Linked DNA regions of Homo sapiens: region 1 is linked to region 2. Evidence: fine-mapped expression QTL. A gene starts in region 2. The other region holds a variant in brackets. All regions are shown on one strand. Distances are from middle to middle.

Region 1 (16,358 bases), 67 kb before region 2:
TTTGAGACAGGGTCTCACTATGTTGCCCAGGCTGAAGTGCAGTGGCTATTCACAGGCGTGATGCCACTACTCATCAGCACAGGAGTTTTGACCTGCTCAGTCTCCGACCTGAACTGGTTAACCCCTCCTTAAGCAACCTGGTGGTCCCCCACTCCCAGGAAGTTGATGCTAAACTTAGTGCAGACACCTGATTGGCATAGCGCACTACAGCCCAGAACTCCTGGGCTCAAAGGATCCTCCCGCCTCAGCCTCCCAAGTAGCTGGGAATACCAGCACACTCCACCACACCAGGCTAGAAGTGTCAATTTCTATGTTTATTCAAAAGAAACCATAAACATCTGCTCTATGAAAGAACTGAGTCAGTTTCAGTACCTTAGCAGGTGACACAGACTCTGTTGTGAGAACGGAAAGCCCAGGAAAGAATTGTAGATTACTGGTTTCAAGCTGTCTTATACCTACCTCAGGCACTAGGAGGCATGGAGAGTTTGCAAGGAAGTGATGAGGAGATTTAAAAAGAAAAGGCAGAAGAGATGGAGAGTGGATGGAAAGCTCCCAATAAAGAGAGGCTGGCCAGGCGCGTTGGCTCATGCCTATAATCCCAGCATTTTGGAAGGCTGAGGCAGGCGGATCACCCAAGGTCAGGAGTTCGAGGCCAGCCTGGCCAAAATGGTGAAATCCCTTCTCTACTAAAAATACAAAAAATTAGCTGGGAGTGGTGGTAGGTACCTGTAATCCCAACTACTAGGGAGACTGAGGCAGGAGAATCACATGAACCCAGGAGGCACAGGTTGCAGTGAGCCGAGATCGCACCACTGCACTCCAGCCTGAGTGACAGAGTGAGACGAGAGAGAGAGAGAATAGGAATGTTTTGAGCAGAGCAGTTACTTCTTGCTGCAGTTCCTTTTCCCCAGAACAGTCAAAATGTGCTGGCCCTTACTTTTCTTCACGTCCCTCTCCTCCTAGGCTGGGATCCAGGAGCCCCAGGACTTGGTGCCACTAAAATAACTGCCGCATTTTTTTTTCCTTGAGTTTCATGGCATGGATCACAGATTTCAGCTTTGAATCTTTGAATGTTTTGAATGTTTCAGCTTTCAAATGTTTTGCTTTTCTCCAAATAGCCTAAGCTATAGTGAACCATAGAAGGGCAATGAGCAAGCCATCATACCCAAACATTTCTAAATCAATCCATTTTCCATCATGACTCAGTACATGTATACATCTGTAACAGAGTGCAGTGGTGCAATCATAGCTCTCTGCAGCCTAGAACTCTTAGGTTCAATCAATCCTCCTGCCTCAGCCTCCAGAGTTGCTGGAACTACAGGCTTGTGCCACCACGCCTAGCTAATTATTTTAACTTTTTGTAGGGACAGGGTCTTCCTATGTTGCCCAAACTTAATCTACTATTTTGTTTGTTTGTTTGAGACAGAGTCTCGCTCTGTTGCCCAGGCTGGAGTGCAGTGGGGCAATCTCTCCTCACTGCAATCTCCGCCTCCTGGGTTCAAGTGATTCTCCTGCCTCAGCTTCCCAAGTAGCTGGGATTACAGGCGCCCCCTACCATGCCCAGCTAAATTTTTTTTTTTTATTAGAGACGGGGTTTCATCACAGTGGCCACGCTGGTCTCGAACCCTTGAACCCAGGTGATCCACCTGCCTCAGCCTCCCAAAGTGCTAGGATTACAGGCGTGAGCCACTGTGCATGGCCTTAATCTACTATTTTTTGTGGCAATAATTAGATGCTTAATTCTCTAAGTAAAAATTAAATCCAATTCCAAGGTTTGCAAAGCATACTAAGTATACCCAAACATCTTCAGAGAAACTATGCTGAGCAATTTCTTTACCGTATTTTGCCCAAACACAGTAATGAATACAGCTGAATATTCCCTGCATGTTTTGCTAATTTCATACTTTCCGTCAGTACACAGAACATGGCAACTGTGTGTCTCAAGTGTTTTTCAGACATCGTCTGACTTACCGTAACTGTCTGCATAGTAGACCTGGTATTATGCATCTTACACAGATGGAGAATTTGAAGTTAAATACGGGCCCAGGTGCACAATTACATTTCAGGGCCCAGAATTTAGGTATAAATGTTGGACTTAAAGAGTGCTGTTTTATTTTTAGAACACTAATTCAGTAAATAAAGCAGCAGACATGGGCTTATGATTCATTCACCTTATTTGTGAAAAGAAAAGCCTAATAACCTCAGCTTCTTTGTCAAGTGGTTTAGCAAGTCACATCAAGAGAAAAGGAAAGCGCTGGGTGCGGTGGCTCATGCCTATAATCCCAGCACTTGGGAGGCTGAGGCAGGCATATCACTTGAGGTGAGGAGTTCGAGACCAGCCTTGCCAACATGGTGAAATGCCATCTCTACTAAAAATACAAAAATTAGCCGGGCGTGGTGGTGGGCACCTGTAATCCCAGCTACTTGGGAGGCTGAGGCAGGAGAATCGCTTGAACCTGAGAGGTGGAGGTTGGCGTGAGCCAAGATTTTATCACTGCACTCCAACCTCGGTAACAAAGCAAGACTCGGTCTCAATTAAAAAAAAAAAAAAAGGAAAGGAAGCTGGGAAAAAATGCAATGAGACTAAAAGTTACTAAAAAATAGCCCAAACCTTTAACAAAAGAAGCTTTGAGGCCAGGCGGTGGCTCAGGCCTGTAATCCCAGCAAGTTGGGAGGCCAAGGCAGGCGGATCACTTGAGGTCAGGAGTTCGAGACCAGCCTGACCAACATGGAGAAACCCTGTCTCTACCAAAAATACAAAATTAGCTGGGCATGGTGGCGCATGCCTGTAATTCCAGCTACTCGGGAGGCTGAGGCAGGAGAATTGCTTGAACCCGTGAGACGGAGGTTGCGGTGAGCTGAGATCACGCCATTGCACTCCAGCCTGGGCCACAAGAGTGAAACTGTCTCAGAAAAAAAAAAAAAAAAAGAAGCTTTGAAAAGTGGGGAGGGAGAGAAATATTTCATTACTATTTATCGCAGAGAAACTCTCCACCAGGCTGCCACATGTGGTTGCACAGGCTGAGCACTGCACAATTTCCACGGCTGCCATACAACAGCTACTCCTGAAGTGCAATGGTCCAGCTATCAAGATAGCTCTTTATGGCAATAACAGGCATTTTCTGTATTGAAATCATTTTTAAAAATAAAGATGGGGTCTCACAATGTTTCCCAGGTTAGTCTCAACCCCCTGGGCTCGAGCGATCCTCCTGACTCAGCCTCCAGAAGTGCTGGGATTACAGGCATGAGCCACCATACCCACCCGATTGAAACACTTAATTTTTTAAAATTGTTAAAGTACTTTGCATTAGAAAGAAAGAAGAGCTAAAATAAATCTTATTTATAAAGGCAAACATAGGGCCAGGTGCAGTGGCTCACGCCTGTAATTCCAGCACTTTGGGAGGCCAAGGGTGGATGGATCACCTGAGGTCAGGAGTTCGAGACCAGCCTGGCTAACACAGTGATGAGGGAAGAGAGAGATCCTCTCATATTGTTTTATATTGTTTTATACTCAGTACCTGTTTTAAGAAAAAACAACAAGGAAGTAAAACCAAAGACAGGCAGCCCAGCGCCATGCCCGAAACCACGCCTGGGCCTGCCTGGTCTAAACCCAGTAGTTAAAACTCAACTCATAACTTAGAAACCAATGTTATTCATAGATTCCAGACATCATGTAATCCCAGCTACTCAGGAGGCTGAGGCAGAAGAATCGTTTGAACCCTGGAGGCGAAGGTTGCAGTGAGCCAGGATCAGGCCACTGCACTCCAGCATGGGTGACAGAGAGAGACTCCGTCCTGAAAATAAATAAATGCATAAATAATAAAGGCAAACAGAACTTTTTATTACAATTATTCCCCCCCCCCCCCCCCACCGCTTAATTCTGAAACAGCATGTTTTGGACAAAGACTCCAATCTTTTTTTTTTTTTTTTTGAGACGGTGTTTCGCTCTTGTTGCCCAGGCTGGAGTGCAATGGCGCCATCTCAGCTTACCGCAACCTCCGCCTCCCAGGTTCAAGCGATTCTCCTGCCTCGGCCTCCCAAGTAGCTGGGATTACAGGCATATACCACCACGCCCGGCAAATTTTGTATTTTTAATAGAGATGGGGTTTCTCCATGTTGGTCAGGCTGGTCTCGAACTCCTGACCTCAGGTGATCCCCCCGCCTCAGCCTCCCAATGTGCTGGGATTACAGGAGTGAGCCACTGCGCCCGGCTGACAAAGACTCCAATCTAAGTAATTAAATCGACGTGAAGAAATAGAGAAAAATTGGACTCTCTGCATTAGGAAGTTTATAAAATAAGCATGTATTGATCGCCTGCTAGTTGTGAGGCTTTGCATTAGGGGATGTATTCGTGACTTTGGCTTCTTCTAGTTAAGTAGTTCTCAAAGTGGGGATACACCATTAGGATCGCCTGCCTCAGCCTCCCAAAGTCCTGGGATTACAGGCGTGAGCCACCGCGCCTGTAGCTGCACTAGACCAATCTGGTTCAACTTTTTTTTTTTTTTTTTTTTGAGACAGAGTCTCGCTCTGTTGCCCAGGCTGGAGTGCAGTGGCTCAATCTCGGCTCACTGCAAGCTCCGCCTCCTGGGTTCACGCCATTCTCCTGCCTCAGCCTTCTGAGTAGCTGGGTCTACAAGTGTGTGCCACCAGGCCGGCTAATTTTTTGTATTTTTAGTAGAGATGGGGTTTCACCGTGTTAGCCAGGATGGTCTCGATCTCCTGACCTCGTGATCCGCCCGTCTCGGCCTCCCAAAGTGCTGGGATTACAGGCATGAGCCACCGCGCCCGGCCTGCTTCAACTTTTATGTAACAAAGTCGTTAGTTTATCAGTTGCCTGGAACCCTCAGATTATGTAACCTGAGCACGTCCAGACGAACCAAGCCTGCACCCACAGGGGGATCCTAAGTGCTAGGATCGGGGCATGGGGACTAAATTAAGAAACAGACACAGCCCACCAGGATCCAGGATCCAATCAGATTGAGCCCTGGCATCACCCCATTGCAGCATCCAGTCAGATCACACCTCCTGGCATCACCTGACTACAAGATCCAATCATATCATGACTCATTAGCCTAGGCCTATAAAAGCCAACCCAGCCCCCACTCTCCAAGTGGCACTGTTTTGGGAGCTGTCTGTAATCCACCAAGCGACTGAACTCATCCACTGCGTAGGTAACAAGAACTTGTTACAAATGCAAAATCTTGGCCGGGCGCGCTGGCTCACGCCTGGATTCCCAGCACTTTGGGAGGCCGAGGCAGGCAGATAACCTGAGGTCAGGAATTCGAGACCAGCCTGGCCAAAATGGCGAAACCCCATCTCTACTATAAATACAAAAATTAGCCGGGTGTGGTGGCTCACGCCAGCAATCACAGCCACTCATGAGGCTGAGGCAGGAGAATTGGTTGAACCTGGGAGGCGGGGGTTGCAGTGAGCCGAGATCGCACCATTGCACTCCAGCCTGGGTGACAGAGCGGGACTCCGTCTCAAAAAAGAAAAATCTTAAACCTCATTCCAAACCTAATCAATCAGAGACGGGGCCCAGCAATTTTTAATCTCAATAAACTGTAAATCTATAAGTCAGTAAACTCTCCAAGTGACTCTGATGCACGCTAAAGTTTCAGAACCACTATTCTAGTTTGTAGATCAATATTTTAAGGTAAGAACAGGCATTTAGACAGTTCAGAGCTGGGGGCGTAGGGAGGAACACAACAGAAATGCCGAGAGATCAAACGTACGTAAGACTTCAGCCCAGCAAGATCTGCCGCAGATTTTCTCAAACCCTGGTGGTCCTTTTGGTGAGATGGGATGTTTCAGAGGGATATGGCTATAGATGGGATGGCCCTCTTGAGAGGCTGACAGAGACTTAAGTATCAGGCCAGGCGCGGTGGCTCACGCCTGTAATCCCAGCACTTTGGGAGGCCGAGGTGGGTGGATCACAAGGTCAGGAGATCAAGACCATCCTGGCTAACACGGTGAAACCACGTCTCTACCAAAAATACAAAAAATTAGCCGGGCGTGGTCGTGGGCACCTGTAGTCCCAGCTACTCGGGAGGCTGAGGCAGGAGCATGGCGTGAACCTGGGAGGCAGAGCTTGCAGTGAGCCGAGATTGCCCCACTGCCCTCCAGCCTGGGCGACAGAGCGAGATTCCCTCTCGGGAAGAAAAAAAAAGTATCAGATTTGTTTTAAAGTACTATGGAAGTGGGAATAGCCCAGCCAGAGGTGTTTGTTCCTTAATTTGTTTGTTGCTTTGTTTTTGAGACAGAGTTTCACTCTTGTTGCCCAGGCTAGAGTGCAATGGCGCGATCTCGGCTCACCACAACCTCCGCCTCCCGGGTTCAAATGATCCTCCTGCCTCAGCCTCCCGAGTAGCTGGGATTACAGGCATGCACCACAATGCCTGGCTAATTTTCTATTTTCAGTAGAGACGGGGTTTCTCCATTTTAGTCAGGCTGGTCTCAAACTCCTGACCTCAGGTGACCTGCCCCCTTCAGCCTCCCAAAGTGCTGGGATTACAGGTGGGAGCCACCTCGCTTGGCCTGTTTAGTGTTTTTTTTTTTTTTTTTTTTTTTTTGAGACGGAGTCTTGCCCTATTGCCCAGGCTGGAGTAGTCTTGCTCTGTCGCCCAGGCTGGAATGTAGTGATGGGACCTCTGCTCACTGCAACCTCTGCCTCCCAGGTTCAAGTGATTCTCCCGCCTTAGCCTCCTGAGTAGCTGGGATTACAGGCGCCCGCCACCACGCCCGGCTAATTTTTGTGTGTTTAGTAGAGACCGCGTTTCGCCATGTTGCACAGGCTGGTCTCGAACTCCTGGCCTCAAGTGATCTGCCCGCCTCAGCCTCCCAAAGTGCTGGGATTGCAGGTGTGAGCCACTGCGGCTGACCAGTCCAGAGTCTATTTGAAACAGAGTTGGAAAGACAGGAATTTAAACCTTACTAGTTGTGTAAAGTTGGTATGCAGCAGGCACATTTTAGGATATCTGCCCAGCCCACGATTCTTCCATTTCTTCTCTAGAATCTCTGTCTCTCAACACAAGGGGGAAGAAAGAGAGAGCGAGACAGACAGACTCTTATGCAACCACATAAAAGGAATAACCTTTGCTAAGAAGATAACGATTGTCTCTCTAAGGAGTTTAGAATATGGACAGAACAATAATCATGGATTTTTGCAGATGGCTGAACCTGTCTTCTGTGATTCCAGGAGTTGTGGGGCAGCCATGCTTCTCTACAAGGATACAGATACCAAGAGAAAGAACCCATTCTGCAGGTGGAGAAAAAGAGGACTCTGGGGTCTGTTACCTGAGTTTCCAGCTGTCTCCTGAGCCAGGTTCAGCACCTTCCTCTGTCTCGTAGCAAATCAGCCCCTGGATTCAGCGAGATATCCTGAGAGCCTACAAGTAACTTTGGCTGCCCACCTGTATTCTTTTTCTTATTTGTTATTAATTTATGTTGAGACGGAGTCTCGCTCTGTCGCCCAGGCTGGAGTGCAATGGCGTGATCTCAGCTCACTGCAACCTCCACCTACCGGGTTCAAGCAATTCTCCTGCCTCAGCTTCCTGAGTAGCTGGGACTACAGGTGCCCATCACCACGCCTGGCTAATTTTTGTATTTTTAGTAGAGACAGGATTTCACCATGTTGGCCTGGTTGATCTCAAACTCCTGACCTCAGGTGACCCGCCTGCCTTTGCCTTCCAAAGTGCTGGGATTATAGGCGTGAGCCACGCCCCGGGTCCCATATTCTTTTTCTTTGCAAAAGATTCAGCTGAAGTTCGTTTCTGTAACTCATACCAGAAAGCCTTTGCTAAGACAGGTGAGCAATTTATCTAATCTCACTCAACTTCAATGTATTTGTGGAAGGAGGCTGCTAATAGGTACCTCATTCACTGGTAAAGAGCTAAGTGAGATAATGTGCGTAAATACTTAGGGCAATGTCCAGCACACATTAAAATCACCCTTTCAAGTCATAGGAATGAGTTCTTTATCACCCTGGGCTGTGGTAATCACCTGTGCGTTCCAGGTCAAAAGGCCTGAGGTGGCTCCCTGGAATATGGCCTGGTCTCCACTCGAGTCTACTAATCTGAAGGCTGGGCAACCACAGATTACTTGCTCTGATTGAAAAGTTTGACAAGAAAATGATGACCAGGTGCCTTTCAGTGATTTCAATTTTTGAAGATGGCCAGGTCCACCGGCTCAC[C/A]CACTGGGAGGCCAAGGCAGGAAGATCTGTTGAGCCCAGGAGTTCAAGACCAGCCTGGGTAATAGAGTGAGACCCTGTCTCTTAAAATAAGTAAATAAATAAATGAAGTAAAGAAAAAATCTGCAGGCCGGGCGCAGTGGCTCACGCCTGTAATCCCAGCACTTTGGGAGGCCGAGGCGGGCAGATCACGAGGTCAGGACATGGAGACCATCCTGGCTAACATGGTGAAACCCCATCTCTACTAAAAATACAAAAAATTAGCTGGGCGTGGTGGTGGGCGCCTGTAGTCCCAGCTACTCAGGAGGCTGAGGCAGGAGAATGGTGTGAACCCGGGAGGCGGAGCTTGCAGTGAGCCGAGATTGTGCCACTGCACTCCAGCCTGGGTGACAGAGTGAGACTCCATCTCAAAAAAAAAAAAAAAAAGAAAGAAAAAGAAAAAGAAAGAAAAGAAAAAATCTGAATATAATGTGAAAACTTCTTTCCTAAGATTATTCTTCCTTTTAATTTTAATTTTTTTTTTTTTTGGAGACAGAGTATCGTTCTGTCACCCAGGCTGGAGTGCAGTGGCACGATCTCAGCTCACTGCCACCTGTGCCCAGAGGTTTTAGGGGTATTTTTGTGTTGAGATGCTGATATGGTTTGGATTTGTGTCTCTGCCCAAATCTGATGTTGAATTGTGGTCCCCAGTGTTGGAGGAGGGGCCTGGTGGGAGGTGATTGGATCATGGGGGCGGATTTCCCTCTTGCTGTTCCTATGATAGTGAGTTCTCGCAAGATCTGGTTGTTTAAAAGTATGTGGCACCAGCTGGACGTGGTGGCTCACACTTGTAATCCCAGCACTTTGGGAGACCAAAGCGGCTGGATCACCTGAGGTCAGGAGTTCAAGACAAGCCTGACCAACATGGTGAAATCCCATCTCTACTAAAAATACAAAAATTAGCTGGGTGTGGTGGCGCATGCCTATAATCCCAGCTACTTGGGAGGCTGAGGCAGGAGAATCACTTGAACCCGGGAGGTGGAGGTTGCAGTGAGCCAAGATCTTGCCATTGCACTGCAACCTGGGCAATAGAGTGAGACTCCATCTCAAAACAAAACCAAAAAAAGTATGTGGCACCTCCCCCTTCACTCTCTTCCTCCTGCTCCAGCCATGCAGACGTGCCTCTTCGCCTTCTGCCATGATTGTAAGTTTCCTGAGGCCTCCCTAGCCATGCTTCCTGTACAGCCTGTGGAACCGTGAACCAATTTAGCTTCTTTTCTTTATAACTTACCCAGTCTCAGGTAGCTCTTTATAGCAATGCAAGAATGGGCTGATACAGATGCCATGTTTGTACCCATGCCATTGTGCCAGCCGAAGACTGCCACAGGGCTGGCCAGTCCCAAACACCCTCCACATCCAGCTCCAGCCAGGTTCCTGCAGCTTTGGGCTGGCTTTGCAGGACCAGAACTCAATACATAACTATCTGACTGCTCCCTGCAACCTCTGGCAGGGCTGGGCAGCCACGACCTCACTCCCCTGCCCTAACTCCAAGGTACTGGCATTACCAATGGGGGCTCGAAACTGCAGCTGGGTGAGCTCCAAGCCCTCTGCATCCTTCAGCAGGAAGGTCATAAGAAGTGGAAAATGCAACATTTGGGCATGAAGGCAGATGTGCCTGTCCTCACCTAGGTCCATGGGGATGCAGCCCTAGCAGGGACCCGCCTTTCTCTACCCAGCACTTCCCTGCCCTCCTCCAGTATCACAGGGACTGAGGTAGGAAGGGCCTGAATAGGACAGGGGCGGGGCTTGTAAACACAGCTCTGTTCCTGCCTCTGCCAAACTGTTTTGCAGTTTTGACCTGCAAAAACTGTCCCACGCACACACGTAATTCCCTGGATGGACTGAGTGTGAGGTAGGCAGGCTGACTCTAACCACCCTTCCTCCAATTACAGAAAACAATGACCATCTACAGGCTTCACATATCTTAATTCATTTAATCTTCACAAGAACGCTGGGTAGTAAGTGCTATTATTATCCCTATTTTTACAGATGATGAAATGGAGGCATACAGAGTACAAATGAAATTTGCGGCCGGGCATGGTGGCTCACTCCTGTAGTCCCAGCACTTTGGGAGGCCGAGGCAGGTGGATCACGTGAGGTCAGGAGACCAGTATGGCCAACATGGTGAAACCCCGTCTCTACTAAAAATACAAAAATTAGCCAGGCATGGTGGCAGGCACGTGTAATCCTAGCCTCTCGGGAGGCTGAGGCAGGAGAATGCTTGAACCTGGGAGGCGGAAATTGTAGTGAGCTGAGACCATGCCATTGCACTCCAACCTGGGCAACAAGAGCAAGACTCCATCTCAAAAAAAAAGAAGAAGAAAAGAAATTTGTGGCTGGGGGCAGTGGCTCACGCCTGTAATTCCACCATTTAGAGAGGTGGAGGTGGGAGGATCACTTGAAACCACGAGTTCGAGACCAGCCTGGGTAACATAGTGAGACACCCCCCCCCCCAACCAACTCTATTTTTTTAAAAAAAGAAATTTGCCCAAAATTACCCAAAGAAGCATCAGTGCCAGATTTTGAACCCAGGCAAGCCAGCTCCTAATCCTAAACCCAACCTGCTAACCACTAGGTTCTCCTGTCTCCCAGTAAGCCACTCCCTGTCCATGACCTGGACATTAGTAATTGCTGGCTACCAGGAATCAGAACTGGCTACCAAGGAGAAAAGCACCATTGTTTGCTCTAAATAAGGTATGCATGTTTCAGGTTTTTAGAATTGGGGCTTAAAATACACAAAGATGGGCTGGGCACAGTGGCTCACGCCTATAATCCCAGCACTTTGGGATGCTGAGGCAAGAGGATCACTTGAGCCCAGGACTTCAAGACCAGCATGGATGACATCACAAGACCCTGTTTCTAAAAAAAAAAAAAAAAAAAAAGAAAAAAGAAAAGCCAGGTGTGGTGACACTCACCTGTAGTCCCAGTTACTTGGGAGGCTGAGGCAGGAGGATCGCTCAGCAGATCAAGGCTGCAGTGAGCTATGATTGAGCCACTGCACTCCAGCCTGAGTGACTAAGACCTTGTCTCAAAAAAAGAAGAGGCCAGGTGTGGTGGCTCACGCCTGTAACCCCAGCACTTTGGGAGGCCGAGGCAGGCAGATCACCTGAGGTCAGGAATTCGAGACCAGCCTGGACAACATGGTGAAACCTCGTCTCTACTAAAAATACAAAAAGTAGCTGGGCGTGGTTGTGGGTGCCTGTAATCCCAGCTATTCAGGAGGCTGAGGCAGGAGAATCACTTGAACCCGGGAGGCAATGATTGCAGTGAGCTGAGATCACGCCACTGCCCTCCAGCCTGGGTGACAGAGCAAGGTTCCATCTCAAAAAAAAAAAAAAGAAAAGATACACGAAGATTGTCTGGGCATAGTGGCTCACACTTATAATCCCAGCAGTTTGGGAGGCCAAGGCAGGAAGATTGCTTGGAACCAGGAGTTCAAGACCAACCTGGCCAACATAGCAAGACCCCATCTCCAAAAAAAAAATTATAAAATAAAATAAATAGGACACATGAAAGTGGGCTGGGTGGAGTGGCTCACAGCTATAATCCCTGTGTTTTGGGAGGCCAAGGCGAGAGGATCACTTGAGGCCAGGAGTTTGAGGCTGCAGTAAGCTATGCTTACATCACTACACTCCAGCCTGGGTGACAGAGCAAGTCCCTGTCTCTAAAAAAAAAAAAAAATTTGGCCGAAGATATACTCTGGAAGGTCCCATCTAAGAAACACACACGCGTGCACGCATGCACACACACAAACACACACACTTCATCCATTTGTTGCTGACACTCGAATTGTGGCCAGACCCACCTCCAGGATTTTCTTTGCCTGGCTTGCTTTGCTTAGACTTTTGACATCTCTCATTTTTCTGGAATCTAACCCAGGCCAAGATCTCTAATGTCGCTGTCACTAAAAGTTGCATATCCCACATCCTCTAGATATCACACACTTCTGGCCAACCTTTTGGTTTCCCACTGTGTATTTTTGGCTCATTCTTTCCAATTCACGCCATTTGTGAATCATCCAACACGGGCCGCACATCTCGTCCAATCCATGGCATGGCCGTGTTGTGCTACCAACTTTGTGGGTGGCATTTCCCACACCCCAGAGTATGGGCTATCATTATGTATCTGGGTGCGAAAAAAATGCACATGACAGTGGGTACAGTTACTCCCTCTTCTAGTTCCCACAGCATTCTGTGATTTGCTTGTGTGTGTGTGTGTGTGTGTGTGTGTGTGTGTGTGTGTGTGTGTGTGTGTGGTGGGGGGGGCAAGGATACATGCAGAAAACAAGATGGAAATAAAAGAAGTATACCATTTGTCTCCCAGCATCAATGGCTGCCTGGGTGGAACCTGGGCTTCCTTTTTTTTTTTTTTAGAGGCGGAGTCTTGCTCTGTGGCCCAGGCTGGAGTGCAGTGGCGTGATCTCAGCTCACTGCAACCTCTGCCTACTGGATTCAAGCAATTCTCCTGCCTCAGCCTCCCAAGTAGCTGGGATTACAGGCATGCGCCACCACGGCCGGTTAATTGTTGTAATTTTTGTAGATACGGCGTTTTCCCATGTTGGCCAGGCTGGTCTCGAACTGCTGGCCTCAAGTGATCCTCCTGCCTTGGCCTCCCAAAGTGCTAGGATTATAGGCGGGAACCACCACGCCCAACACTGGGCTTCCTTGGGTGTCAAATGGACATCTTTAGGGCTGGTCCATCCTCTGGATCCATTCCCTCTCCCTCCAGGAGGGCTAGGAAGAGGGCAGTCCCTCCTCAGCCGCCATCATCATCTTGAGGTGCAGGGCAGTCAGGTAAACCCCAAGGAAGAGGAACAGACCTCAGGCTGGTGGACCTGGCCTGCGGGGGTAGGGGGTGACAGCTGCCCTAGGTGCCCAGGGTGGGTCGAAAGTCAAAGGCTGAGGCAATCAGGAACCGCTCTGTCTTGGGCAGGATGCTAGAACCGTGGTGGGTGATGCCACCCCCTTGAGGTCACTTTGGAAATTTGGGGTTTTCTGATCATCACAATAATGTAATAGCAACCTGTGGCCAGGCGCAGTGTCTCACACCTGTAATCCCAACAGTTTGGGAGGCTGAGGGAGGTGGATTGTTTGAGCCCAAAAGTTCAAGACCAGCCTAGGCAACATAGCAAGCCAAAACAAAACAAAACAACCTAGCTGGGCATGGTGGTGCCTGCCTGTGGTCCCAGCTACTTGGGAGGCTGGGGCGGGAGGATCACTTTAGCTGGGGAGGTTGAGGCTGCAGTGAGCTATGATCATGCCACTGTAGTGTACTCCAGCCTGGGCAACAGAGTGAGGCTCTATCTAAAAGATAATATTAATAATAGCAACCCACTCCTGGGATACAGACATAGACTCTGCAAAGATCTGTCCCAAGTTCCATGTGGCTCCAGTGTCGTATCCAACATTCACACAGATGAAAAATGTTCATCCTCATTTGAGCCCTGAACTGAACTCTATTTTGCAGAAAGGATTTTTTGCACAGTCTTAACATACATTGTATTTTCCAGCAATGAAACTAAATTGAAGCAAAAGTGTACTTTGTTTGGGGCTGGGCACGGTGGCTCATGCCTGTAATCCCAGCAGTTTGGGAGGCCGAGGTGAGTGGATCACCTGAGGTCAGGAGTTCAAGACCAGCCTGGGCAACATGGCGAAACCCCGTCTCTACTAAAAATACAAAAAAATTATAGCCAGGCGTGGTGGCAGGTGCTGTAACCCCAGCTACTCGGGAGGCTGAAGCCGGAAGAATTGCTTGAACCGGGGAGGCAGAGTTTGCAGTGAGCCGAGATCGTGCCACTGCACTCCAGCCTGGGAGACAAGAGTGACCTCTGCCTCCTGGACCAAAGCAATTCTCCTGCCTCAGCCTGCCGAGTAGCTGGGATTACAGGCATGCAGCACCACGCCTGGCTATTTTTTGTATTTTTGGTAGAGACAGGTTTTCGCCACATTGGCGAGGCTGGTCTCAAACTCCCGACCTCAGATGATCCACCTACCTTGGCCTCCCAAAGTGTTGGGATTACAGGTGTGAGCCACCGTGCCCAGTCTTTTTTTCTTTTTTGGGACAGGGTCTTGCTCTGTCACCCAGCCTTGGGTGCAGTGGGGTGATCATAGCTCAGTGGTCTCCAGTGCCCAGGCTGCACAGCAGGAGGTGAGCAGCGGGCAAGCAAGTGAAGCTGCATCTGTATTTATAGCCACTCCCCATTGCTCGCATTCCCACCTGAGCTCCACCCCCTGTCAGATCAGTGGCAGCATTAGGTTCTCATAAGAGCACCTATTGTGTACTGCACATTGGAGGGATCTGGGTTGCATGTTCCTTATGAGAATCTAATGCCTGATGATCTGAGGTGGAACAGTTTCATCCCAAAACCATCCCCTACTACTCCCCATCCATGGAAAAACTGTCTTCCACAAAACCAGTCCCTGGTGCCAAAAAGATAGCTCACTGTAGCCTCAAACTGCTGGACTCAAGCAATCCTCCCACCTCAGCCTCCAAGTAGCTGGGACTACAGGTGTATGCCACCACACCCGGCTAATTTTTTTATTTTTTGTGGAGATAGGGTCTTGCTGTGTTGCCCAGGCTGGGTTGATACCTTTTGAATTTTTTTTTTTTTTTTGAGACAGAGTCTTGCTCTGTCACCAGGCTGGAGTGCAGTGGCACACTCGGCTCACTGCAACCTTCACCTCCCAGGCTCAAGTGATTCTCCTGCCTCAGCCTCCTGAGTAGCTGGGACTACAGGCATGCACCACCACCACCCAGTCAATTTTTGGTTTTTTTTGTTTGTTTTTTTTTGAGATGGAGTCTTGCTCTGTCACCCAGGCTGGAGTGCAGTGGCGAGATCTCGGCTCATTGCAAGCTCCGCCTCCCGGGTTCAAGCCATTCTCCTGCCTCAGCCTCCAGAGTAGCTGGGACTACAGGCGCCCGCCACTACGCCTGGCTAATTTTTTTGTATTTTTAGTAGAGACGGGGTTTCACTGCATTAGCCAGGATGGTCTCGATCTCCTGACCTCGTGATCCGCCCGCCTCGGCCTCCCAAAGCGCTGGGATTACAGGTTTGAGCCACCGTGCCTGGCCCTAATTTTTGTATTTTTAGTAGAGATGGGGTTTCACCATGTTGGCCAGGATGGTCTCAATCTCTTGACCTCGTGATCCACCCTCCTCGGCCTCTGAAAGTGCTAGGATTACAGGCATGAGCCTCCGCACCTGGCCCAAATTTTTCTTAACTTTCAAGGTCAAGGGTACAGGTTCAGGTTTGTTACGTAGGTACACTTGTGTCATGGGGGTTATTTCATCACCCAGGTATTAAGCCTAGTACCCATTAGTTGTTTCTCCTGATCCTCTCCCTCCTTCCACTCTCCGCCCTCTAATAGGCCCCAGTGCGTGTTGTTTCCCTCTATGTGTCCATGTGTTCTCATCATTTAGCTCCCACTTATAATCAAGAACATGCGGTATTTGGTTTCCTGTTCCTGCGTTTAGTTTGCTAAGGGATATCTTTTTTAGAATTTTTTTTTTTAAAGGAGCCTGCATCCTGACTAAACATCAGCATGCCTTCACCATGCTGTGACCCAGGCAGCTGCAGGATCTTCCCAGCAGAATGTTCCCTTGAACATTCTCAGACACTGATAAAGGCATCTAGATTGTTGCTCGAAACACTGGAAAAAAAAAAAAAAACTGGTCCTGAGCCAAATTTCTCATACTCTCATAAAAATTCCTGTCCCTGAGCCCCTCACTGAAGACATACCTAGGTAGAACCTCCCTTTTCTCTCACTGTTGTGAGGATCACTGCAGCCCTCCTAAGTAAATTCCCCTAATAAATGTTCTGGCCTGATCACCCTGGCAGTTAGTGTTTCTTTCTTTAGAATCTCAACCAGCCCCAGCTGCTGCGGTGGCTCACGCCTGTAATCCCAGCACTTTGGGAGGCCGACGGGGGCAGATCACTTGAGGTTAGAAGTTTGAGACCAGCCTGGCCAATATGGCGAAACCCTGTCTCTACTAAAAATACAAAAAAAAAAAAAAAAAAATTAGCTGGGCATGGTGACAGGCGCCTGTAATCTCAGCTACTCGGGAGGCTGAGGCAGGAAAATCGCTTGAGCCCAGAAGGTGGAGGTTGCAGTGAGCTGAGATCGCGCCATTG
Region 2 (16,358 bases):
TCAAATAAATGGATAAACAAACAAACATCGGCCATGTATTGTGGCTCATGCCTGTAATCCCAGCACTTTGGGAGGCCAAAGCGGGAAGATCACCTGAGGTCAGGAGTTTAAGACCAGCCTGGCCAACATGGTGGAACCCTATCTCTAACAAAATACAGAAGTTAGGTGAGCATGGTGGTACACGCCTGTAATCCCAGCTACTCAGAAGACTGAGGCATGAGAATCACTTGAACCCAGGAGGCAGAGGTTGCAGTGAGCCAAGATCATGCCACTGCACTCGAGCTGAGGTGACAGAGTGCGACTCTGTCTCAAAAAATATATATTAAAAATTTTTTAAAAAATAAATATATTCAGGAACAAATAGCCTCTCCTCCTAGGACTTACTCTAGAGATGTCCAGGGACCTGCCTGCTACTATTGCCATATGTACCCCTCTGTTCAACCAATTGCCAGAGGATTCCAGGCAACTGGCTGGCCCACAGATTACAGTTTCAGAATCACAGGCCATAGATCAACATGGAGAGCTGCTACCTGAGTCCAGGAGATTGGCAAACACAAGCTGACCCAGGGGCTATATTCAGCGCAGTAATTGATGAACTGGACACAGATAAAGGACCCATTGGTTGGCTGCAGATTGACACTTGTCAGTGGACTTGCAATGTGGCTTAAGTGGGTTCTTACGTTACTGGAGAATACAATGCATCCCCTTGTGGACTACTGCCCTTGGGAAACCTCCATGGGAATTTAAAAGGCAAGTGAGACCAGGTGCAGTGGCTCATGCCTATAGTCTCAGCACTCTGAGAGACCAAGATGGGAGGACTGCTTGAGGCCAGGAGTTGGAGACAAGCCTGGGCAACATAGCAGGACTCCATCTCTACAAAATAAAAAAAAAAAAATTAGCCAGGTATAGTCGCACACGCCTGTGGTCCCAGGTACTTGGGGAGCTGAGGGAGGAGAATCGCTTGAGTCCAGGAGGTTGAGGCTGCAGTGAGCTATGATCGTACCACTGCACTCCAGCCTGGGGAACAGAACAAAACCCCGTCTCTGAAAATATATATAAAATAAATAAAATAAAAGGCAAATCAAAGCAGGGCATGTCAATGCTCACCAAAAGAAGCCTTATGCCAGGGTCTGAAGGTGGCCAGAATCAACAAGTGAATACCTAGTTTATTTTTTTATGAGATGGAGTCTCACTCTGTCACTTAGGCTGGAGTGCAGTGGAGCGATCTTGGCTCACTGCAACCTCCGCCTCCTGGGTTCAAGTGATTCTCCTGGCTCAGCCTCCTGAATAGTTGGGATTGCAGGCATGCACCACCACATCCTGCTAACTTTTGTATTTTAGTGGAGACAAGGTTTCATCATGTTGGCCAGGCTGGTCTCAAACTCCTTACCTCAAACGATCTACCTGCCTCGGCCTCCCAAAGTACTGGGATTACAGGCATGAGCCACTGCACCTGGCCCCTTAGTTCATTTTATTTATTTATTTTTGAGGCAGGGTCTTGCTCTGTTGCCCAGGCTGGAGTGCAGTAGCACCATCACAGCTCACTGCAGCTTCAACCTTCCAAATTCAAGTAGATCCTCCCATCTCAGGCTCCCAAGTAGCTGGGACCACAGGCATGTGCCACCACACCCAGCTAATTTTTTTTTTTTTAGTAGAGATGGGGTCTCCCTATGTTGCCCAGGCTGGTCTCAAACTCCTGACCTCAAGCAATTCTACTGCTTCAGCTTCCCAAAGTACTGGGATTACAGGCTTGAGCAACTGCACCTGCCCTACTTCAATCTCATAAAGTAGCAATGTGGGTCCATAAAATGAGTGGGCCCGGGGCACTCGTGCCATGAAGTGAGGGGCTGAGCACCATGTAGTACTTTCCCTGCAGAAGTTCAAATGTTTACTAAACATTGCTCTGTTTACCAACAGAAAAGGTTATGTTTGCAGTTAGGTCTGGGAGTATTTCCTGGGGAGGAAGTCCAGCCCACAGCTGGCAAGTAGATGATACTGGCCCTTTACCCATTTTTCCAAGAGAAATTAAATGGACACCGACAGGTCTGCATGCATACTCTGAGTTTGGCTTTGTTTTTATTTTTTAATTATTTTTAGTTTTTACAGGCAGGGTATCACCTGTTGCCCAGGCAGGAGTACAGAGGTGCAATCACAGCTTACTGCAGCCTCAACTTCAGAGGCTCAGGCGATCCTCCCACTTCAGCCTCTTGAGTAGCTGGCACTACCAGTGCATGCCACCAAGCCTAGCTAATTTTTTAATTTTTTTGTAGAAATAGGGTCTCACTATGTTGCCCAGGCTGGTCTCAAATTCCTGGGCTCAAGTGATCCTCCTGCCTCAGCTTTCCAAAGTGCTGGGATTACAGGCATGAGTGATCACACCTGGTCTGTTTGGCTTTGATAGCCATATTGGTTTGGCACTCTCAGTTACGTTTTCCCAGATCAAGACACTCAATCCACAGCCCATGCCGAGCAACAATGAGCAAAGAACCAGCATATTCGATGGACTTATCACATTCTTTATCACTCTCAAACTCTCAGGTTAATTGAAAATTAAAATGGGCAATTAAAACACTGTCATGTCTGTAATCCCAGCACTTTGGGAGGCCGAGGTCAGGAGATCGAGACCATCCTGGCTAACATGGTGAAACCCCATCTCTACTAAAAATACAAAAGTTAGCTGGGCATGGTTGTGCGCACTTGTAATCCCAGCTACTTGGGAGGCAGAGGCAGAATCGCTTGAACCAGGTTGTGGTGGGCAGATCGCTTGAGGCCAGGAGTTCCACATCAGCCTGAGCAATCTAGTGAGACCCCGTATCTATAAAAAATTTAAAAATGAGCCAGAAGTGGTTCATAGTGGTTAAGTAGCTGTAGTCCCAGCTACTCAGGAGGCGGAAGGGGGAGGATCATTTGGAACCCAGGATTGAAGGCTAGAGTGAGCTAGGATTGTGTCACTGCACTCCAGCCTGGGCAAGAGGGAAACCCTGTCTCAAAAATAAAAAAAAAAACTGAGGAGACGTGATAAAGGAGTGACACTCAGCCTACAACCACCCGGCATTTTGTTCAGAGAAGGACTAAGTGTAGGACTCTTTGGACAAATTATTATGCTTTTGTGGTGGGAATTGGGGAAAGGAGGAGGGGTGTGATGGTTAATATTGAGTGTCAACTTGATTGGATTGAAGGATGCAAAGTATTGTTCTTGGGTGTGTCTGTGAGGGTGTTGCCAAAGGAGATTAACATTTGAGTCAGTGGACTGGGAGACGCAGACCTACCCTCAATCCAGGTGGGCACCATCTAATCAGCTGCCAGCGAGGCCACAATAAAAAGTAGGCAGAAGAACGTGAAGAGATTAGACTGGCTTAGCCTCTGAGCCTACATCTTTCTCCTGTGCTGGATGGTTCCTGCCTTCAAACATCGGACTCCAAGTTCTTCAGCTTTGGAACTCAAACTGGCTTCCTTGCTCCTCAGCTTGCAGATGGCCTGTGATGGGACCTTGTGATTGAGTTAATACCCCTTAATAAATTCATATATATATATATATATTCTATTAGTTCTGTCCCTTTAGTGGACCCTGGACCCTAATACACATTTTGGTACCAGAAGTGGGGTCCAGAACAGGAGAAGGCTCTGCAACAGGTCCAGTCCACTGTGCAAGCTGCTCTGCCACTTGGGCCATATGACCCAGCGGACCCAGTGGTGCTTGAGGTGTCAGTGGCAGATAGGGATGGTGTTTGGAGCCTCTGGCAGACCCCCATAGGCCTCTAGGATTTTGGAGCAAGGCCCTGCCATCTTCTGCATATAACTACTCTCCTTTTGAGAGACAGCTCTTCACTTATTACTGGGCTTTGGTGGAAACTGAACATTTGACTATGGGTCATCAAGTCACCATGAGACCTGAACTACCTGTCATGAACTGGTGTTTTCTGACCCACCTAGCCATAAAGTGGGTCGTGCACAGCAGCATTCCATCATCAGATGGAGGTGGTATATATGTGATCGGGCTCCAGCTGGTCCTGAAGGCACAAGTAAGTTACATGAGGAAGTGGCTCAAATGCTCGTGGTCTCCACTCCTGCCACCCTATCTTCTCTTCCCCAGCCTGAAATGATGGCCTCATGGGGAGTTCCCTATGATCAGTTGACAGAGGAAGAGAAGACTAGGGGCTGGTTCACAGGTGGTTCTGCACGATATGCAGGCACCACCCAAAAATGGACAGCTGCAGCACTACAGCCCCTTTCTGGGACATCCCTTATGGACAGCAGTGAAGAAAAATCTTTCCAGTGGACAGAACTTCAAGCAGTGCACCTGGTTGTGCACTTTGCATGGAAGGAAATGGCCAGGTGTGCGATTATATACTGACTCATGGGCTGTAGCCAATGGTTTGGCTCTATGGCCAGGGACTTGGAAGAAGCATGATTGGAAAACTGGTGACAAAGAAATTTGGGGAAGTATGTGGATGGACCTCTCTGAGTGGTCAGAAACAGTCAAGATATTTGTATCTCATGTGAGTGCTCACCAAAGGGTGACCTCAGCGGAGGAGGATTTTAATAATCAAGTGGACAGGGTGCCTCATTCTGTAGACACCACTCAGCCTTTTCCCCAGTCACCACTGCCATCGCCCAATGGGCTCATAAACAAAGTGGCCATGGTGGCAGGGATAGACTTTCTCAGCAACATGGACTTTCACTCACCAAGGCAGACCTGGCTACAGCCACTGCTGAGTGCCCCATTTTCCAGCAGCAGTGCCCAACACTGAGCCCTTGATATGGCATCATTCCTTGGGTGATCACACAGCTACATGGTGGCAGATTGATTATATTGGACTTCTTCCATCATGGAAAGGGCAGAGGTTTCTCCTCCCTGGAATGGACACTCCAGATATGAGTTTGCCTATCCTACACGCAATGCTTCTGCTAAGACTACCATCTGTGGATTCACGGAATGCCTTATCCACCGTCATGGTATTCCACACAGCATTGCCTCTGACCAAGGCACTCACTTTACAGCTAGTGTGACAGTGGGCTCATGCTCTTGGAATTCACTGATCCCACCATGTTCCCCACCATCCCGAAGCAGCTGGATTGATAGAATGGTGGAATGGCCTTTTGAAGTCACAATTACAATGCCAACTAGGTGATAATACTCTGCGGGGCTGGGGCAAATTTCTCCAGAAGGCCATGTCTGCTCTGAATCAGCATCCAATATATGGCATTGTTTATCCCATAGCCAGGATTCACAGGTCCAGGAATCAAGGGGTGGAAGTGGAAGTGGCATCACTCACCATCACCCCTAGTGATCCACTAGAAAATTTTGGCTACCTGTTCCCACAACATTACATTCTGCTGGTCTAGAGGTCTTAGATCCAGAGGGAAGAAAGCTGCCACCAGGAGACACAACGATTCCATTAAACTGGAAGTTACGATTGCCACCTGGACACTTTGGGGTCCTGCCACTTTTAAATCAACAGGCTAAGAAGGGAGTTACAACCTTCTGGGATGATTGACCCAGACTATCAAGATGAAATCAGTCTACTACTCCACAATGGAGGTAAGGAAGAATATGCATGGAATACAGGAGATGCCCTGTGATTAAGGTCAATGGGAAACTATAACAGCCCAACCCAGGCAGGACTACAAATGGCCCAGACCCTTCAGGAATGAAGGCTTGGGTCACTCCAGGAAAAAACCTGCTGAGATGCTTTCTGAAGGCAAAAAGAATACAGAATGGGTAATAGAAAAAGGCAGTCATCAATACCAGCTATGACCATGTGACCAGCTACAGAAACGAGGACTGTAATTGTCATGAGTATTTCCTCCTTTTGTTAAAAACATGTTTGTGCATATATAAGCTTGTACTAAGAATATTTCATTTCCTTTTTCCTTTATTGTGTGAATAACTTATATTGACTTCATATAAGCATCTAAGTGTTAGTTTTATATAAGGGCATTTGGGTTCAGGATTGGTGCATTTCCAGTTGTATGAAGAATACTTTTATTATTATCTTAGGCACAATTATGACCTTATTATTATCTTTATTTGAAGATTATGTATAATTTCAGAAGATGTGTATGGGTTAAAGTTGACAAGGGGTGAACTTGTGATGGTTAATATTGACTGTCAACTCTATTGGACTGAAGGATGCAAAGTATTGTTCCTGGGTGTGTATGTGAGGGTGTTGCCAAAGGAGATTAACATTTGAGTCAGGGGGCTGGGAAAGGCAGACCCGCCCTTAAACTAGGTGGGCACAATCTAATCAGCTGCCAGTGTGGCAAAAATAAAAATGAGGCAGAGGAACATAAAGAGGTGAGACTGGCTTAGCCTCCGAGCCTACATCTTTCTCCCATGCTGGATGGTTCCTGCCCTAGAACATCGGACTCCAAGTTCTTCAGGTTTGGGACTCAGAATGGCTTCCTTGCTCCTCAGCTTGCAGACAGCCTATTGTGGAACCTTGTGATCCTGTGAGTTAATACCCCTTAAGAAACTCCCTTATATATATACATCTATCCTAACAGTTCTGCTCCTTTAGAGAACTGTGACTAATACGAAGGGTGACAATAGAGGAATTTATATGCTAGACTTTTATACTTTACCTCAATTTTCATTACCTTTTGAAGAAAAAATGTTTCACATAATAATCACATAACAATAATTTATTCAAATTTATTAAGGCAGGAGCTGGGCCTAAAGAGGGTGCTGAGAGGCAGGAGCTGGGCCTGGAGAGGTCAACTGAAGGAAATTTTTGGCCTAAGGAGGCTGCCAGGAAGCAGGAGCTGGGCAAAAACAGGTTGTTGTTAGGCAGGATTTGGGCTCATAGAGGCAGCCAGGAGGCAGGAACTGGATCTTTATAAAAGGGGCAACGTAAGGCAGGAGCAGGGCCTGCAGAGTCTACCAGGAAGCAGGACCAGGGCACAAGAGGCTGACATGAGGCAGAAAGTTGCCCTTGGGAGGCCACTGTGAGGCAGGACTCTTGAAAGGACGCAAAGCTGGGCCTGTAGTGGCTGCTAAAAGGCAGGAACGTGGTCTGGAAGGCCCTGGTGAGGAAAGAGTTGGGCCAAAAGAGGCCACTAGGAGGCAGGAGCTGGGCCTCAGGAGGCTGCCATAAAACAGGAGCTGGGACTCGGAAGGCAGACATGAAGCAAAAGCTGGCCTTTGGAAGGCTGATGAAAGGGAGAAGCCGGGCCTGGTGAGGTTGACTTGAGAAAGTTTGGGGCCTGGAGAGATCCATGGGAGGCAGGAGCCAAACTTGTAGACGCTACTGGAAGGCAGGAGGTGGGCCTGGTGAGGTAAACATGAGGAAGTTCTAGGCCTGGAGAGACAAGTCGGAGAAAGGAGCTGGGGGTAAAGAGGCTGTTGTAAGGCTTGAGATAGGCCTGCAGAGGCGGCCTGGAGGCAGGAGCTGGGCCTGGAGATGCCAAATTGAGGAAGTTTTAGGCCTGCAGAGGCCGTGAAGAGAAAGGAGCTAAGCCTGGAGAGACCGATGAAAGGCAGAAGCTGGGGCTAGAGAGGCCATTGGCAGGCAAAAGCTGGGGCTAGAGAGGCCATTGGCAGGCAAAAGCTCGGCCTCTGGAGGCCGCAAGGAGACAGGAGCCGGGCCTGGTGAGGTTGACTTAAGGATGTTTTGGTCCTGGAGAGGCCGGGCCTAAAGAGGCTGTTGAAAGGATGATGCCAGGCCTGTAGAGGCCAACAGAAGGCAGGAGCTGGGCCTGAGAAGCCCAAATTAAGAAAGTTTTAGGCCTGTAAGTTCCCTAAAGAGGCAGGAGCTAGGCATGCATGGAGAGGCTGCTGTGAGGCAGAAGCTGGGCCACTAGAGGTTGCCAAGAGGCAGGAGAATGGCTTGAAGATGTAGCAGTGAAAATGAGCTGAGTCTAAAGAGGTCATTGTTAGGCAGAAGCTGAGATCCTAGAGGACACTCAGAGGTACAAGTTGGGCCTGGAGAGGTCGACTGGAAAAAATTATTGACTTAAAAAGAGCACCAAGGCAGTAGCTGGGCCTGGAGTGGACACAGGAAGGCAGAAGGTGGGACCTGGGAGGCCGCCATTAAACAGGAGCTGAGTTTATGAGGCAAAAGCTGGGCCTTAAAAGGCTGACCAGATGCAGAAGCTAGGCCTGGTGACGATGACGTGAGAAAGTTCTGGGCCTGAAGGGACAATGCAAACGCAAGAGCTGGGCCTAAATAAGCCATTCGAAAAATGGAGTTCGGCCTCAAGAAACTGCAGAAAAGCAAAAGCTGGGCTTGGAGATGCTGCAACGAGGCAGGCACAAAAATGGTCTAGCAACTGGAAACAGCTCTGGGCCTGGAGAGGATGCCGGGAGGCGAGAGCCGGGTCTGGAGAGAGGCCGCCCACAGGCAGGAGCTGGGCCTGAGGCGGCCAAGCCGAGGCACGAGCTGGGCCCGGAGGGGCCACTGTGGGGCAGAGGCCGTGCCCCCAGGGGCCTACGCCAGGCAGGAGCTGGGCCTGGCGAGGCCGACTTCGGGCCGCCTCGGGTGGGCCCGCACAGGCCATCAGCGGGAGGCAGGAGCTGGGCCCAGAGGGGCCGACGTTGAGGAAGGGAGCCTTGGGCTGGGAGACGCCGTCGGGCTGGGCGGGAGCCGGGCCTGGAGAGGCCGCCGCGAGGCACGAGCTGGGCCTGGAGGGGCCCGCGTGAGGCAGGAGCCGGGCTCGTGGAGGCTGCCGGGAAGCCGGCACGAGCATGGCCGGGGAAGGCCGCCACGAGGCAGGAGGCAGGCCTGGAGAGCTGGACCGGAGGAGGCTTCGGGTCTACGGAGGCCGCTGGGAGCTGGGCAGGAGCCGAGTCACAGGAGGATGTTCAGAGGCAGGAGCTGGGCCCGCGGGCGCAGCCACGAGCAAGGAGCTGGGCCCGGAGAGGAGGCCGGGAGGCGGCCACTGGGCTGGCAGAGGCCGACTTGAGGAAGTCCTGGGCCTGGAGAGGCTGCCAGAAGGGCAAAGGTGGGCCTCAGGAGGCCGCGGCGAGGCACGAGCCGGGCCTAAAGAGGCCATTGGGACGCAGGAGTCAGGCCCGCGGAGGCCACCGAAAGGCAGGAGTGTGGCCTGGTGCAGGCCGTGGTGAGGCACGAGATGAGCCTAAAGATGCCATCGGGAGGCAGGAGCCGGGATTGTCGGGGCTGCCGCGAGGCAGGCGGAAACGTGGCCCAGGGAGGCCAACGTGAGGCAAGAGCTGGGCCTGGAGAGGCCGCTGTCAGGCAGGAGCTGGGCCTCTCCATGCCACCGGGGAGCCAAAGGCAGGGCCTGAAAGGCCTGACTTAGAGGATCCTGGGGTTTACAAAGGCTGCCAGGAGCTGGGCAGGAGCTGGGCCGAACGTGGCTTTTGCGAGGTAGGAGCTGGGCCGGCAGGCACAGCTGAGAGGGAGAGTTGGGCCTGGAGAGGCCGGCTGGAAACAGTACTGGGCCTGGAGAGGATGGTGAGAGGCAAGAGCTTGGCCCATGGAGGCTGCCAACAGGCAGGGCAGGAGCTTCGGCTGATGTGGCCACGCTGAGGCAACAGCTGGGACTGGGGGGTTCCACTTTTAGAAGGCAGAGGCCGTGCTTCTAGGGGCCTATGACAGGCAGGAGCTAGGCCCGGCGAGGCCGACTTCAGGATACTTTGGGTCTGCACAGGCCATCAGCGGAGGGCAGGAATTGGGCCCTGGATGGGCCAACTTGAGAAAGCCTTGGGCCGGTCGGGGTGGGCGGGAGCTGGGCCTTGAGAGACCACCGTCAGGCGTGAGCTGGGCCTAGAGACCCCAGTGTGAGGCAGGCGCCGGGCTTTTTGAGGCCGCCGAGAGGCTGGCAGGAATACAGCCGGGGAAGGCCGCCGTGAGGCAAGAGCTGGGCCTGGGAAGGCCGCTGCGAGGCCACAGGTGGGCCTGAAGAGCTGTGCTGGAGGAGGTTTCGGGCCTACAAAGGCCGCCAGGAGCTGGGCACGAACCGAGTCAAAAGCGGCTGTCTGCAGGCAGGGGCTGGGCCTGGAGGTACAGCCGCGAGAGTGTGCTGGGCCTGGAGAGTAGGCCGGGAGACAGCCACCAGGACAGGGGAGGCTTGCCAATTTGGGCCTGGAGAGGCCGCCACGAAGGAAAAGCTGGGCCTTTGAAAGAGGCCATTGTGAGGGACGAGCCGGGCCTAAAGAGGCCGTCAGGACGCAGGAGCCGGACCTGCGGAAGCCGCCGAAAGGCAGGAGCCTGGCCTGGGGGAGGCTGCAGTGAGGCATGAGATGAGCCTAAAGAGGCCATCAGGAGGCAGGAGCTGGGTCTTTCGGGGCTGCCGCGAGGCAGGGGGAAATGTGTCCCGGGGAGGCCGACGCGAGACAAGAGCTGGGCCCGGAGAGGCCGCTGTCAGGCAGGAGCTGGGCCTCTCCAGGCCGCCAGGGAGCTGAAGGCAGGGCCTGGAAGGCCTGACTTAGAGGAGCCTGGGGCCTACAAATGCTGCCATGAGCTGGGCAGGAGTTGGGCCGAACGTGCCTGTTGCGAGGCAGGAGCTGGGCCGGCAGCCACAGCCGGGAGGGAGAGCTGGGCCTGGAGAGGCCGGCTGGAAACAGTTCTGGACCTGGAGAGGATGGCGAGAGGCAAGAGCTGGGCCTGTGGAGGCTGCCAACAGGCAAGGCAGGAGCTTGGCCTGAGGTGGCCATGCTGAAGCAAGAGCTGGGTCTGGGGGGGTCCACTGTGAGGAGGCAGAGGCCATGCCTCTAGGCGCCTACGACAGGCAGGAGCTGGGCCTGGCGAGGCCGACTTCAGGACGCTTTGGGCCCACACGGGCCATCGGCGGGAGGCAGGAACTTGGCCTGGAAGGGCCATCTTGAGAACGCCTTGAGCCGCGAGACGCTGTTGGGGTGGGCGGGAGCTGGGCCTGGAGACGCCACTGTGACGCCTGAGCTGGGCCTAGAGAGGCCAGTGTGAGGCGGGAGCTGGGCTTGTTGAGGCTACCGCGAGGCCGGCTAGAAAATGGCCGGGGAAGGCCGCTGTGAGGCAAAAGCTGGGCCTGGGAAGGCCGCTGTGAGGGGAGACTGGGTATGGAGTGCTGGACTGGAAGAGATTTCAGGCCTACAAAGGCTGCCAGGAGCTGGGTAGGAGCCGAGTCAAAAGAGGCTCTTTGGAGGCAGGAGCTGGGCCTGTAGACACAGCTGCGAGAGAGGACTGGGACTGGAGAAGAGGCCGGGAGGCAGCAACTGCGGTGGGGGAGGCCGACTTGAGGAATTTCTCGGCCTGGAGAGGCCACCAAAAGGGAAAAGCTGGGCCTAAGGTGGCCGTTGTGAGAAATGAGCTGGGCCTAAAGAGGCCATCAGGATGATCAGGACGCAGAGCTCGGCCTCTGCTGCAGAGGCTGCTGAAACGCAGCAGCTTGGTTTGGCGAGGCCACGGTGAAGCATGAGATGAGCCTAAAGAGGTCACTGGAAGGCAGTAGCTGGACCTGTCAGGACATGACGCTCAGGTGGTTATGCGAGCGATGGGGAGGGGCTATAAATACAAACGAATTTTCCCCTCACTTTGCTGCTCACCACCAGCTCTGTGGCCCTGTGGTGGAGACCCCTGCTCAGGTGCATTTGAAAGGTTCCGTCCCATGCCATTCTTCAGAGTCATCTTTATTGCCACAGTGGTGAAGCATAGCATCCGTTAACTCGCATGGCATATGCCTTGGCTAGCATTTCATCACAATAAACAGTAAGTGGTAGCTTCACTCATTGTGAGGACACTTCCTGGAAATCACCAGCATCCCATGTCCCATTGGCAAGAAACTCAGCACTGCTCCTTGGATAACCAAACCAAGGCTGAAATCCCATGTATATGTGTCTATCTCCTGGTACTCTTCCTAGCATCAATTCTGTATTTCTAGGAGTCCAATCAAAACATATAAACCGCTCAAAAGTTTAAACTGGAATGCGCACGGTGGCTCAAACCTGTAATCCCAGCGCTTTGGGAGGCCAAGGCGGGTGGATTACTTTGAGCTCAGGAGTTGAGACCAGCCTGGGAAACACGGCAAAACCCTGTCTCTACAAAAAGCACAAAAAAAGCACAAAAATTAGCCAGGCATGCTGGCACATACCTGTAATCCCAGTTACTTGGGAGGCTGAGGATGGAGAATTGCTTGAGCCTTCGAAGTGGAGGTTGCTGTGAGCAGAGATCATGCCTCTGCACTCCAGCCTTGGTGACAGACTGAGACCCAATACCAAAAAAAAAAAAAGTAACTTTAATATAAAAAATATTAATTATAACAGAGGATCAGCATAATGAGTGACACACTAGCACTAACTACAGACAATTCTAGAGAATACAAAACTAGCAGAGGCCAGGCATGGTGGCTCATGCCTGTAATCCCAGCAATTTGGGAAGCCTAGGTAGAAGGACTGCTTGAGGCCAAAAGTTGGAGACCAGGCTGGGCAACTTAGTGAGACACTGTGTCTACCAAAAAAAAAAAAAAATTAGCCAGGTATGGTGGTGGTGCACAACTGTAGTTCCAGCTACTTGGGAGTCTGGGGTCGGAAGATCCCTTGAACCTGGGAAGTCTAGGCTGTAGTGAACCAAGATCATGCCAGTACACTCTCGCCTGAGCAGCAGAGTGAGACCCTGTCTTAGGGAAGGGGAGGGGAAGGGAGGAGAGGGGAGGGGAGAGGAGGGGAGAGGAATGCTAATCCCCCTATAAGAATCTCCTCTTCTCCTGCCCTCTCTGGAACCTCACTTGTCAGTTCTTCCTCCCACTTCCCTGTATGTTTAACCTGTCCCCTGCTTTTAGCTCCTTCCCACCAGCATTTAAATTACTCAAACTTCTGCTATTTTAAAAAACTCTCCCTAAACTCAGTGTGTTCCCTGCTTTAGGTCTCCAGCACACCCACTGAGCCATCTGCTCCCCCTGGTGCCTTCTCCACACAGCAGCGTGAGCCATGTCTCTCATACGTGAATCTCATCACATTACTCCCCTGTTTACATCACTTCTCCTTGCCTTTGGGATTAAGTCCAAACTCCTTAACAGGCCCTGCTCTGCCCTGTCTTGCAAGGCAGCCTCACTGCTTGCCCCTCTCCATTTTACCTGCTGTGGAGTCCAACTGAGCCTCATCTGTCCCTTGAATGCCCACTCTCTCTCTCTGCGAGCCTGCGAAGTGGGTGATGCCCTCTGCTTAGAATACGCTTCCCCTTATCTACTCTCTTCCTGGCTAGCTTCAGCTCCTCTGTCACTTGTCCGCTTTAGCACCACCTCCTCCAGGAAGTCTTCCTTGACTCCCTAGATTCTCAGGAGCATGGGAAGCGAGGTGCTCCTCCCATAAATGAATGGAGATTAGGGAGTGTGTGTTATTCATGTTTAATTCACCAGTGCTTACCTCAGTACCTGGCACAAAATAGTCATGGTGGTGGCCAAAGTATCACAGTGGTGGCCAAAGTAATGACCCCCCAACTGCTCATGTCCTATGTTACACCGCATAATTACATAGGAAGGGGGAATTAAGAGTACAGATGGAATTAATGTTGCTAATCAGCTGACCTTAAAACAAGATTATCCTGCAGTATCTGGGTGAGCCCATGTAATTACAAGGGTTCTTTAAATGTGGAAGAGGGAGGCAGAAGGTTAAGAACCAGAGACATTGGGCATAATGGCTCATGCCTGCATTACCAGTACTTTGGGAGGCCAACACAGGAAAATCCCTTGAGTGCAGGAGTTCAAGGCCAGCCTTGGCAACATAGCAAGGCCCATCTCTACAAAAAAAAAAAAAAAAGTCAAAATTCACCGAGTGTCATGGCACCAACCTGTAGTCCCAGCTACTGGGAAGGATGAAGTGGGAGGATTGCTTGAGCCTGGAAATCTGAGGTTACAATGAGCCATGATTGGACTACTGAACTCCATCCTGGGTGACAGAGCAAGGTCCTGCTTCTAAAGAAAAAAACAAAAGGACATTGGAATCAGGGTCCCCTCCATCCTAAGGTGCCTACAAGACATCTCTCTCTGCAAATGAGTGAACATCATCCTCCAGCTCCTCACAGAGTGGAGCAGCAGGAAAACTCCCTCACCTCATTTCTGTGCTGCTTGGGAGGCCTGGACAGCTCAATAACCAGCTCCTTGTGGAAGAACCAATTGGGAAATGGCTCGAGTTGAGCTAAGGAGAATTTGGTTCTTTCTTATGGTTCTCAATAGGCAGGGTAGGGGCCAGGCATGGTGACTCATACCTGTAATCCTTGCACTTCGGGAGGCCAAAGTGAGAGGATCGCTTGAGGCCAGGAGCTCAAAACCAGCCTGGGCAACATAGCAAGACCCGGGTGGCATGCACTTGTGGTCCCCACTACTTGGTAGGATAAGGTGGGAGGACTGATTACTTGATCCCAGGAGTTTCAGTCTGCAGTGAGCCATGATGATACCACTGCACCCCAGCCTGGCTGACAGAGCCAGACCATGTCTCAAAAAGTAAAAGAGACTATAGGCAAGCAACAACACATCTGGCTAATTTTTAAATATTCTGTTGAGATGAGGTCTTGCTAGGTTGGTCTAAAACTCCTGGCATCAGGCCAGACACAGTGGCTCATGCCTGTAATCCCAGCACTTTGGGCGGCTGAGGTAGGGGGATCACCTGAAATCAGGAGTTTGAGACCAGCCTGACCAACATGGCAAAACTCCGTCTCTACTAAAAATACAAAAATTAGTCGGGCAGTAGTGGCATGTACCTGTAATCCCAGCTACTCAAGAGGCTGAGGCAGGAGAATCGCTTGAACCTGGGAGGTGAAGGCTGCAGGCAGCTGAGATCACACCACTGCACTCCACTCTGGGCGAGAGTGAGATTCTGTTTCAAAACAAAACAAAACAAAAACCTCCTGGCATCAAGAGATCTTCCTGTCTCAGCATCCAAATGCCCCGGGATTATATTTTTTGTTTACCATAATTGAAAACACTTGTTCTTATACTGCTTTAAGGTATAAACGAAAAAAAATGGACAATAACAAATGTTGGTGAAGGCCAGGCATGATGGCTCAGCCTGTAATTCCAGAACTTTGGGAGGGTGAGGTGGGCAGATCACTTGAGGCCAGGAGTAAGAGACCAGCCTGGGCAACATGGTAAAACCCCATCACTACAAAAAAATATAAAAATTAGCCAGGCATGATGGCGTGTACCTATAATTCCCAGCTACTCAGGAGGCTGAGATGAGAAGATCATTTGTGCCTGGGAGGTCAAGGCTGCAGTGAACTGTGATGGCGTCACTGTACTGCAGCCTGAGAGACAGAGCAAGCCCCTGTCTAGAAAAAAAAAATAATGTCAGTGAAGATGTGGAGGAACTGGAACCCACATACATCACTGGTGGAAATATAAAATGGTGTAACCACTTTGGGTATTTCTTTTCTTGTCATTTTAATTGGATTTTTAAAAGAAAAATCAAGACAGGGTCTCACTGTCTTGCCCAGGCTGGTCTTGAACTTGTGTGCTCAACCCATCCTCTCAAATGAGCCTCCTGAGTAGCAGGGATTACAGGTGTGAGCCATTGCACCCAACTGGTGTAGCCACTTTAGAAAACAGTCTGGCAGTTTCCCAAAAGGTTAAATGTAAAATATAATGTAACAATTTCACTCCTAGGCATATATCCCAGAGAAATAAAAATATATGTCCACACAAAAACTTGTACTGTAATCTTCATAGCAGCATTATTCATAATAGCCAATACGTGGAAACAACCCAAATGTCCACCAACTGATAAATGGATCAACAAAATGCAGTGTGTCTCTACCATGGAATATTATTCAGCCATAGAAAAAATGAAATACTGATATACCCTATGACATAAAGGAACTTTGAAAACATTGTGCTAAGAGGGAAAAATGCCACAAAAGATCACCTATTGTACAATTCTATTTGTCCAGATTAGGTAGTGACAGAAAATGAATCCATGGTTGCCTGAGGCTGGGGGCAAAGGCAGGTTGGGGGAGTGGATGTAATGGCTAAGGGTGCAGATTTCTCTATAGAGTAATGAATGGTTCTAAAAGTGACTGCGGTGATCGATGCACAGCTCTGTGAATATTCTAAAATATTCTGAACTGCAGATTTCAATAAATTGAATGGTGTGTGAATCATATTTTAATAAAGCTATTATTTAAAAACATAATAATAAGGGGCTAGGCACAGGTGGTCATGCCTGCCTGTAATCCCAGCACTTTGGAAGGCTGAGGCAGGAGGATCACTTGAGGTCAGGAGTTTGAGACCAGTCTGAGCAACCTAACAAGATCCCATCTCTATGAAAAAATAAATAAGTAAATAAATAAATAAAAAATTAGCTGGGCATGGCGGCACATGTCCGTAGTTTCAGCTACTTGGGAGACTGACGTGGGAGGATGGCTTGAGGCCAGGAGTTTGAAGCTGTAGTGAACCATGATCATGTCACTGTACTGCAGCCTGGGCCACAG

Evidence for each region. PIP is the estimated chance that this variant, and not a neighbour inherited with it, causes the effect.
Region 1: its variant is fine-mapped to the expression of LINC02604 in whole blood (TOPMed, PIP 0.92).

What each region holds. Positions count from the first base shown.
Region 1 is chr7:66,964,055-66,980,412 of GRCh38, reverse strand. It overlaps the pseudogene RN7SL43P. Among named protein-coding and RNA genes, the nearest start is that of SBDS, 23 kb to the left of the region's middle. RefSeq lists a silencer at 15,744-15,944. The variant C/A (reference allele first, on the strand shown) is at 8,192.
Region 2 is chr7:66,896,570-66,912,927 of GRCh38, reverse strand. LINC02604 (long intergenic non-protein coding RNA 2604) reads right to left here and starts at 8,808. Exons shown (of 1, transcript NR_136637.1): 1 at 6,631-8,808.